3 linked regions of the Homo sapiens genome follow. The protein of the gene in region 1 purifies or fractionates together with the protein of each later gene. This does not show direct contact. Each region holds a gene or a part of one and is shown on either strand. Other genes may lie near its edges.

Region 1 (2,713 bases):
CTACAGTTACAAAGGGATGGGGGTTGTAAACCCTCTGAGACTCTGCACTTTTCGCACGTATGGCATCGTCAAGTGCTGTCTTATTACAGCCTTTGTAAGGAGAGGCAGGCTCCTCCTGGGGTGGGCTCTGCAGCTGCTCTATTTCCAGGCATGTGATCGCCCCCGCTCTCCAGATTCCCCAGCACTCTGCTGCGTGTAACTCCACTCAATTCTCCACTCATCCTTCCTTGTGAAGCAGGATCGTTGAAGTTTTAAGTATGGGCAAAAATCTGGAAAACTTAGGATCCCTCTGACACCCCAGGATTAGGGGACACAGCAGTGGCTAGGGCATCAGCCACAGAACTGAGCGGGAAATGCCACTTGTATTGGCTGTAAAGAAATCCTGGCTTTGGGCCAGGCACAGTGGCTCAAGCCTGTAATCCCAGCACTTTAGGAGGTTGAGGCGGATGGATCACCTGAGGTCAGGAGTTTGAGACCAGCCTGGCCAACATGGTGTAACCCCGTCTCTACTAAAAATACAAAAAAATTAGCCAGGCGTGGTAGCGGGCACCTGTAATCCCAGCTACTCAGGAGGCTGAGGCAGGAGAATCACTTGAACCGGGGAGGCAGAGGTTGCAGTGAGCTGAGATCATGCCACTCCACTCCAGCCTGGGCGACAGAGCAAGACTCCATCTCCAAAAAAAAAAAAAAAAAAGGCCGGCACGGTGACTCACGCCTATAATTCCAGCACTTTGGGAGGCCGAGGCAGGTGGATCACGAGGTCAAGAGATCGAGACCATCCTGGCCAACATGGTGAAACCCTGTCTCTACTAAAAATGCAAAAAATTAGCTGGGCGTGGTGGCGGGCGCTTGTAGTCCCAGCTACTCAGGAGGCTGAGGCAGGAGAATCACTTGAACCCGGGAGGCGGAGGTTGCAGTGAGCCGAGATTGTGCCACCGCACTCCAGCCTGGCAACAGAGCGAGACTCTGTCTCAAAAAAAAAAAAGGAAATCCTGGCTTTCTTTAAGCCACAGACTTCCTAGGCTGTGGTCCCAGCTCCTTGTCTGCCTGGTCCCTGTCACCTTGCAGTGCCACCACCCCCAGGGGCTCTGCTTGCTTCCAGTGGCTTCTGTAGCTTTGGCAACTGGCAGATCTTTATGGCAGTAGAGGTGCCAGCATGGAGGATGGAGTTTGGGTTTATAACCCAACCCTCGAACGAACCAGCCTGTGGGGGCCTGGAGTGGAGCTGGTTTTGGGGAGTCACAGGTGCGGGGGGTTCATCTTCTCCTTTCTCCTTCTCCTTTCCTGACCCCTCCGACAGCTTCCATGTTGGCCATGGGTCAGGTGAATGGATGGAGCTCCAAGCGGGGCTCAGCCCATTGACCCGAGCGAGGCGCACACACCTGCAGCGTGGATCAAGCGCACTCTCTCCAGCATCGCCCTGACCATTCCATGTGCTTTGTCCTAGCATGTTCATTCTTGACTTTCTCCACTTCATTTTATTAAAAAGTTAAATGCTTTAGGAATCTGTGGCGTGTGGCCACTGACCGCCCCCCACCTCCTGCCGCTCCTCCAAGTTTGAGCTGAGATGGTTCTGTGAGTCCTTGGCAGGGGTCAAAGGGCACATCTCCTTGAACCTAGAAAGCCCCCTACACTCTCAGAGGACACCTCTCCTGTGGATTCAGCGCTGGGGCAGTGAAGGTGTCGGGAGCCAGCAGAGCATGGTGCGTGCTGCCAGCTGCCGGCCAGCCGGGATAGAGGAGATGCCACTGGCCCTCCGTGCCCCCAGCCCCTCCCTCTTAACCGAGGCTGTCCTTGCTCTCTGCAGAGGCCGCTCTGCAGGATCCTCGTGTCGCGCGTGATGTGTGGTGGCACAGCCGTGTCAAAGTCACAGTGTCTTTTCTGTCGTTCTAGTTCCAGGGTCACCCCCGAGAGGACAACAGGCATCTGGAAGTGCTCTCTCGCCACTCTGGGTGCTTTACTGTCTCTGGCTTGTTTCCATCACTGGAAATCACTTAGAGAATTGTAGTGTTTTTGGTCCTTGATAAAGCCTAGAAGACATTTGTGATGTTACAAAATGGAAGTTTTCTTTTGTTTCTGTTTTTTAAGATCTAAGAAGTTGTGAATGTTGTTAATCATTTAGCCGTTGCAATAAATGTAGAGGAAATGCAGTGTGCTGGGGTCTCCATGGCTGTGTTTTTAAAATCAGATCAGACACCAGCGCACGCAGATGGGAGTGCAGTGTAGAACCAGATGATGGCTGCCTCCCAGGACGTGCCCTCCGCCGGCGTGGTGCTCCTCCCTCGGGCCCCTCCTCACTGGCTTGCCCCACCTGAGGGACCTTGTGTCACTGTCACCAGGAAAGCTTGGAAGATGCCAGAGAGCAGGAAGGGACCAAGCACCCACCAGAGGGAGGGCAATTCCCTTCTGGGGAGGCTGGGGAGGGTAATCGGTACCGCCAAGTACAGAAGCTGCCTTTGAGGGGTGTCAGGGCAGTGGGAGCTGTGCCCCTGCTGCCTACGACTCACCTGTCCCCACAGGGCTTTGCCCCATCATCCCAGGGCTGGGGTTCCAGCTGCCAGAGTAAAACCAGAGCCTGCCTGGGCCACCCTCTGACTGCAGAGCTGCCTCTCTGTCATCTTCACACTCCCTGCTGTCCCTGGGTGCTGCCAGCCTGCCCATGGTTCCTCTGTCAACAGCCCCTTGGCCCTCCAGGTGAGGAGGGGCGTGCAGA
Region 2 (3,650 bases), on another chromosome or scaffold:
TAGTTAAAGTTCTTATCCACTATCCCCATCATACATTATGTGTGTGTGTGTGTGTGTGTGTGTGTGTGTGTGTGTGTGTGTATGCATGTAGATGGAAGTTACTGATCAGAAAACAAGCCCCAGTAATGACCCATAAGCTCAATGAATTAAAGATTCATTGGTTGCCTGGGATGTGTCAGGCAGCCAGGTTCTAGACAAGGGGCTGGAGTTACTAAGATATTTAAACCACTGGCCCCTGCCCTCCAAGAGATGACACTCACATAGGAGAAAGTGCATATTTGCATACTGTAAACATTTTTACAATGAGATATCTATGAAGGGCAGAAGTCATACAGAGGAAGAAATAGTTAATCAATGAGTGATAAGAAAAGGTTCTCAGAATGTGTCATCTAAGCAGAATTTTAACTAAATTTGCTCAACAAAGCATGATACAGCGTTTCCAATAGGTAGACCAACATATACCAGAATATGAAGCAAAATCCATATGGCATGGAAACAGAAAGCCAATGTTTCTCTCCTTCCATTAGAAACACATTTTCGACATACTAGAACTAGCCTACCCCTTTTTCCTTTTGTTCATCCAATAACAAATATTTATTAAACCTTATTTTAAGCACTGTATTTAAGTGTAAAGTAGACGGAAAGAATAAAAGGAAACCAATATTTCCTGAGTAGTTATTGCAATGACAGGCATTGGGAGAGGCACTGTTTTAAATCATTGTTAATCACCTGATAGGTAGATGTATTATTCCATTTTTATAGCGAGAAACAGACTCAAAAGGGTTAGATGACGTAGCAGGAAGTTTTATCTAGATCTATCCTGTTCCAGATCCTATACTTCTTCCATCACAGTTATTGGTAATGCAGAGTTACCTTGGCTTGATTATTTTCCCTAGCGTGGATACTCACAAACACGCCATTTCTCTGTGACTAAATATTGCCTGACAGCTGACCAAGAATACAAATTTGGTCTGTCATCAAAGCAGAGAGTGAAGTCAAGTGGCTCACAGGTCTCCAACTTCTGACTTTGACCTTATTATGACTGATTAACTGTCCCCCAATTTAGATATTCCATGCCCCATTGGTTAAACTGCTGGTGGCAGAACCATCATGATCTGCCATCTCCGCTGATCCCTGCCTCAGCTGCAATCAAAGCAATGATCACTGTCAGGCCAGAAGAAGGGGCTTAGCCACTGCCAAGACAGATCCCAGTCCACTCCCAGCCTTCCCGCCCCTGCTGCTCATTCCCCAAAAAGTCAACCTGGGTTTTCCTGGGTGAACAGTGCCCACTGAACAGCTCCTGCTTGCCCATCTCAAGCCCTCTCAGTTGCCACTCCAATCATTTTGGCTGCTGTATTTGGTTTGAGAAAGAGTGGAGAGGACACTTCTTCATAACTCATATTTGACAGAAACCCAGAAATTGTAGGAACAAGCCATGATTGCTGTGATTCTTGCTCTGGTTGGCTAGGGATGCCCTCCCTTCCAGCCAGAGTAATACATACTTGTGGGAGTCATGGAAGACTGAGGAAGCTGGAGTAGAAGGGAACAGGGGCTTTCCTCAGTGGTAAAAGGAAAAGCAACATTTTGGAACTCTAAACAGTTGCTCAGTTGGGCGAATTTCATGCATTCATTCATTCATTTACTAAATGGTTAATGATTGTTCATGTACTGCCTGCCAAGCCCATGCCAGGGTGGTCTGTGGAAGCAGCAGTGACAGCTCCATCTTCACACAGCTCACAGATAGCGGGAGGTGCAGACAAACTCACAGGCAATGGTGGCAGTGGAATGTCAAGAGCCCAGGATACCGAGCCTGCCAGCCTGCCTGCCTGGGTTAAAATCTGAGCTCCACCATGTAAAAGCTGAGCAACCTAGAAAAATGACAACCTCTCTGTGCCTCGATTTTCTCATTATGAGATAAGGATAAAAACGACATCTATCTCATAAAATTGCTGTGAAGATTGCATGATTTAATATGCACAAAGCTCTTAGAAGGATGCCTGGCCCACAAATATGCATTCAGTGCACATTTCTTGCTACAGTTCTGCTAATCCTATAAAACATATGCACTATGATGGATGTGTCTGGGTGCCAGGAGGACACAAAGGAGCACTAACTCATCCAGACCAGAAGCTTCCCAGAGGAGGTGATTCCCAAGGTGAAATCCGAAAGATAAAGGGAGTGAGTTATCCAGGAGAAGAGAAAGGAAAAGCATATTCCAGACATCAGGATAGGACAGTGGAGGCAAAACAGCATATGCTATATATATATGGAATTCACAACACTCTGGTATGACTGATTAGTAAAAAGTAGGAAGGCAGACCAAGAGAAATAAGGAGACATGGTAAGGTGAGTGGGCAATAATGCATGATCTGAAAAATAATAATGCATGGACTTAGTGTGGTTCACATATCAGGAGCTTCTCCAATAGCCAGGCTATGAGGCACTAAAATGAGGAAATATGGTTTCCAAACTTCGCAAATACTTATAGTCCAGCCACAGGGGATATACTGATAAACTCAGCTCAAATGTCACCTCCTCAGAGATGCTTTCTCAACCACCCTTAGTTCCATGAGGACTGCATCATTGTTTAGGCCACTCCTGTATCCCCAGAGCACAGAACATTGTCTGGCTCATAGTAGGTGCTCAAAAGTTTTGTTGAATGAATGAACAAATAAACGTGTAAGGAAGTCAGGCACAGCACTTGCCCACAGGAAGCTTATAAGATGAGCGGCATGCCATTGGGAGTTTGAATGATATATGGAGATCCAAACAGGGCATCAGAGGACTGCTCAGAGGAGTCAGGGAATTAAGAAAAAATTGGGAGCCAGTGAGCCAAGATGTGTTAAAAGCAAGTGATCAAGCTTAGATTGCAGTGTTAGTTAATAGAGCATATGTGTCCCTGCCTGATGCATTACCTTCCCTGCAGTAGTTAGCCTTCTGGGACCCTGAAAAGCATGCAGAAAGGTTGACAGCTTACAATCAATACCATGTTCACTGATGCAGGAAGCAACATTATCACATCCAAGATATTGCCCCCACACCCAGGCTGCAGCACTAAATATTCCCCATAACAAGGCAAAGGGAAGTGACAAGAGCTATTATTCTCAACCCTCCCACTTGGAAACAAGAGGTGAGACAAACCTTCCCCTAGATGTTCTTAGGGAAAGGCAAGACCCCCAAAGAAATCTTTCAGAGCTGAGCACATGCCTAATACAGCAAGACAGGGATGGGAGAAGATTGGCATTTTCATTTGCCTGGGTGTCCACAATATTGCAGGGGAAGCTCTGTGGGCAGCTGGGAAATACAACAATAAATTGGAGGGGGATGAACAATAGGGTCAGTGGGGCTGTGTGCTGAGTGAATGCTGGATTTTATTCTACATGCCCAATTCACTCCAATAAGATAAACTTGACTTCCTCCAGTGTGGCTTTCTTATTTCAGCTTCTCTGACTGTGGCATAATTGAAAGTCATATTTCATCTAGACCATTGGTTTTCAACTCCAAATGCAGGTGGCTTATGAAGACTCAGCCTGAATATATAAAGAGAACAGCAAACAATCATAGTTGCATATTAAAGACAATCTATTTCTCCGTAAAGGAAAGTAAAGTGAGTCATATTACATACAAGCCACAATACAGAACTGATCTGA
Region 3 (4,324 bases), on another chromosome or scaffold:
CCACAGACTGCAGATCTAGCCCTCCCTTCACTAACCCTCTTGTCCTCACTAACCTGGGTCTGTCTAAGCCTTCTTCCCTGTAGTGGATGGGTTGCTCTGCCAAGGCCTGGCATGCAGTTTGGAGGTGCTCAGGAAACCTCAGCTCAGAGCTATGATGGATGAAGCAGGACAAAAGGCCAGAGGTGAACCAAGAAGCTGGGAGAACAAAACAGGACAGGGTCTCTGTTGTCTTGGCCAACCAAGGTCTAGGAGTCTCCAGACTGGTCAACTCCTGGAACGAGTAGCACCCCTCTGGGCCCAGAAAACTTCTCCCCAGCCCCAACAAAGAGCCTGATCCCTGCCCAACACCAGGGGTTGGGTCCCTGCCACCATCACCCCGTGCCCCTTTCCCCGTGTCCAGACTGTGAGGTAAGGGGATGGGGAAGGGGGCACGGGGTGATGGTGGCAGGGACCCAAAAAAGAGTCAGTCAAGCCTGGGTCCCTGCCCCTGCTGCCCAAGTGGTCCTCATTTGGTCAACTTGGGCCTCAGTTTCTCCATCTGTAAAACAGAGCCGGCCGGGTGCGGTGGCTCATGCCTATAATCCCAGCACTTTGGGAGGTCGAGGCGGGTGGATCATGAAGTCAGGAAATCCAGACCATCCTGGCTAACACGGTGGAACCCCGTCTCTACTAAAAATACAAAAAATTAGCTGGGCCTGGTGACACGCGCCTGTAGTCCCAGCTACTCAGGAGGCTGAGGCAGGAGAATCACTTGAACCCAGGAGGCGGAGATTGCAGTGAGCCGAGATCGAGTCACTGCACTCCAGCCTGGGCGACAGAGTGAGACTCTGTCTCAAAAACAAACAAAAAACAGAGCCATGAGGCACCCACCTGTTGAGGTTAAAGAAACAACATATGTGAAGCAAGTTCTGGGCCCTGGAGTTGGGGAATGGGGGGAGCCCCTCCACTGGAGCGTTTGGGAAGGCTTCCTGGAGGAGGGAGGGGGACCCGTGGCAACGGTCTAAGCCTCTCTGGGATCTGGGAGGGCACCGCGGCCCCGAAGGTATTTCAGGCTAGTCCTGCTACTCTCTAACTTCCCGCCATCACACTCCACAAACAGCTAGAGCTCAAAAGTTGCGTTTCGGTCTTCCCATAAAGCGACAGAGTAGCACCTGGCATTTGATAAGCGCTACAAGGGGTCGTCATGGTGGTGGTGGAGATTATTGTTGAAGGACCCTCGCCACCTCCACGCGGCCCGCCGCCCCTTCCCTGAATGGCGGCAAATGCAGTCAGGCGAGCAGCGTCCTGGGCGGATTCAGACCCTGGGGAAGTCTGGAATTCCTCACCCCGACCCTCGTCCCGGAGGCTCAGGCTGGCCCTTCCAATGGCACTGGTGGGGCAGGGCAGCGGGGCACCCTCCCGGGCCGCCCGGCCCATAGGCCCCTCCTCCTGCCAGGCTCTCCGCCCTTTACATGGTCCCAGGAGAGGCGGGGCGGCGGTGACTGCAGCGAAGTGCAGGAAGCTGGGCGGCGGCCGGCAGTGAGGAGGAGGAGCGAGCAGACTTGGGTGGCTCTGCGCCGCGGAGGCCACAGCCGCAGACTTCCCCAGTAGTACCGCGCCGCTCCGCCCCGGAGTGACGCCCTCCGCCCATGGGCCTGGCCGAGGGCAACCGGCGGGCGGCGCGGAGGAGGCGGCGACAGGTGGCGCGCAGCAGGGCCGGAGCCGGGCCGGGCCATGGCCGCCTCGGAGCGGCTGTACGAGTTGTGGCTGCTCTACTACGCGCAGGTGAGCCCGCCCCGCCCCGCGCCCGCACCCGCACCCGCGGTGCCCCCAGCTTCGCGCGCCCCGCGCCTGCTGCACCTGGCGCCCCGCGCCGCTGGGGCCGCGTAGCCGCGCGCGCGGGCGCGCGCGCGCAGGGCATGCTCCGGCTCCGCACACACGTGTGTGCCCCCAGCCCGCCGGGTGCCTCTGGCACTTATGCCTTGGGGACAGAGCTCGCGGTCGTGCACTTCATAGCAACCCACCCCCGCGAGCAGGACCGTGCAGCCTGAGTCTTTCTTGCTAGAGGAGAGTGGCCTGGGCCGAGGCGGCCGGACACTTGGCCTTTTTACAAATGGGGAAACTGAGACCTGGAGAGACCTGGAGACTGGCCAGGAGGCTAGGGGGAGGGGGACTCAATTTGTCTATGAGCTGCCTCTCCCTTGGGCGCGGCCTGATTGGGTGGTCGTGGCCAACGGGTCTGGGGGTGTGGGCCAAGGTAGGGAGGTGTGTGGAAGGGGAATGCTCCCACTTCAGGTCCTTCTTGAGTTGCATCCCCCCACACCCCAGCGAACAGGCTGTGATAAGCTCTTCCCTGACTTGAAATGACCCACCCCACCCCACCCCCATTCTGAGGGGTAGACCCAGGACCTCTCTAGGAGCAGAAGAAAAGGTTTTCCTCTGGATGCCCAGGGTGAGGGTGGGTCCTTGAGGCCCTGAGGGATGTCTGAAAAGGTTGGAGGGAGGCCCGTTCCTCCTGAGCTCCCCACCCATCTCAGAAAATACTTCAGGTGGAGTCAGAAGGTGAGGGGAGTGACTCAGACGTGGGTGTCCCATCAGCTGAGAACCTGGTATCACTCACACCGTCTCACACACATAGTCCCCCATTTTCCTTCTGTACCCACAGCAGGGAGGGATCCCAGGGTAACACTCCCCTCCCCTTCACCCAGCACCTCCCTCCCTGCACCTGCCTGGCATCATGCTCCTGGCTCAGGTGTGCCCTGGGCACAATGGACCATTGTGTGCCCTGAACAGTTTGTCAGTGGGGGGAATTCATGCTCAGACACGCTGGCCCTCCATAAGGAGGCTGGCCCACTGTCTTCCACGGACCTGGAGTCCAGGCCAGAAGGACCACAGCCTCTTCAGTCCGCTCAGGTTGTGAGAGGTCCAGGCCCCAGCAGGAGGCCAGGCATGGAGTAGAGTCCCTCTTTGGTATAACTCAGATCGAACTCGACTTCTGAGCCTCTGCTTCCTGCCTGTAAAACTGACACAGCCCTGGCCGGGCACGGTGGCTCACACCTGTAATCCCAGCACTTTGGGAGGCCGAGGCGGGCAGATCACAAGGTCAGGAGATCGAGACCATCCTGGCCAACATGGTGAAACCCCATCTCTACTAAAATACAAAAATTAGCCGGGCGTGGTGGGGTGTGCCTGTAATCCCAGCTACTCGGGAGGCTGAGGCAGGAGAATCGCTTGAACCAGGGAGGCAGAGGTTGCAGTGAGCCGAGATCGCGCCACTGCACTCCAGCCTGGTGACAGAGTGAGACTCCGTCTCAAAAAAATAAAATAAAAATAAAAAACTGACACAGCCCTGACCTCAGGGGCTTCCTGGACTCTGTGGAGAGGTAGCCATTATAGCTGGTCCAGACCAGAGAAGGCTCCTGTTTTCCTGGCCCCATTGGGTCCCCTCGCCCCAGCTTCTCTGCCTGCATCCCCAGTGGTTGTGAAGGAGCAGAGGGTTTGAAGAGAAGCCTACCCTAGTCCTCCTTCCTCGGACTGCCCCATAGCTATGGGCAGGCTCTAGGTGCATGGGCAGGTAAAGGGGGCTTAAACCAGCTGGTGAGTGTGAGGGATGTTAATGATAGGTCTTCAGCCTGGGTGGCAGGCTGCTGGGAGTGTCTTGGTATCTCCCAGGACAGTAACTCCAGCATGGTTGCCTCCTGATGCCCCATCTAGCTGAGCTCTGTACATGGCCACCCCCCATCCCCTCAGGAGGTGGTTATGGCTCATATCTGTGCTGAGCCTCCCCCTCCCGGAGCTCCTCACCTCGCAGGGCAGGTATGGAGCATAGGCTGGCAGGTTGTAGCTTTGGAAGCCTGAGCAGACAGTGGGCAGCCTGGGGCCAGGCAAACAAATCCAGGATGTAACAGCAAACCCCCAAGCCAGGCGGGGCCAGGCTGCCTGGGAAGAGGAAGCTAGGGCCAGCCTCCCAGCTCGCCTTCCTGCCCGCCTGCTCCTGACCCTGATCCTGGAACCCCCAATCCAGGGAGGAGTAGGCTATGCAACTTTGAGTCCTGTTAGGGACCTATTGTGTGTGTGCTTGGGGAGGGGGAGTGCAAGGTAAGGGGCAGAGCTGAAAGTGGGTGTTTAGAGACCCTTTAGTTGGCCAGCCACCCAGCCAGCAACACCTGCACCCCTCCCTTCAGCAGTGAGAGCTGACATCAGCTGGCAAACCTGTTTCCCCAGTTGTGGGTCTGGGTGGGGATGGAGAGGGGGGAGTAACTCCTTCCTGCCCTTCCTCTTCCTTAAAGACCCCAGGTTTAGACCCACCCACCCCCTCCCCCTGGGGGCCCGGCTCAACTGGGGG

Evidence for each region.
Region 2: the proteins of SUGP2 (region 1) and PPP2R2B purify together in Homo sapiens (co-immunoprecipitation; one large-scale study listed by IntAct). This does not show direct contact.
Region 3: the proteins of SUGP2 (region 1) and NBEAL2 purify together in Homo sapiens (tandem affinity purification; one large-scale study listed by IntAct). This does not show direct contact.

What each region holds. Positions count from the first base shown.
Region 1 is NC_000019.10:18,990,330-18,993,042, reverse strand, and holds the end of SUGP2 (SURP and G-patch domain-containing protein 2), read left to right. Parts: 3' UTR 1-2,150; downstream 2,151-2,713. UniProt on the Homo sapiens protein: May play a role in mRNA splicing.
Region 2 is NC_000005.10:146,581,691-146,585,340, reverse strand, and holds part of PPP2R2B (serine/threonine-protein phosphatase 2A 55 kDa regulatory subunit B beta isoform), read left to right. Parts: 3' UTR 1-3,650. UniProt on the Homo sapiens protein: The B regulatory subunit might modulate substrate selectivity and catalytic activity, and might also direct the localization of the catalytic enzyme to a particular subcellular compartment.
Region 3 is NC_000003.12:46,978,149-46,982,472, forward strand, and holds the start of NBEAL2 (neurobeachin-like protein 2), read left to right. Parts: upstream 1-1,517; 5' UTR 1,518-1,713; coding exon 1,714-1,764; intron 1,765-3,783; exon of another isoform or gene 3,784-3,846; intron 3,847-4,324. UniProt on the Homo sapiens protein: Probably involved in thrombopoiesis. Plays a role in the development or secretion of alpha-granules, that contain several growth factors important for platelet biogenesis.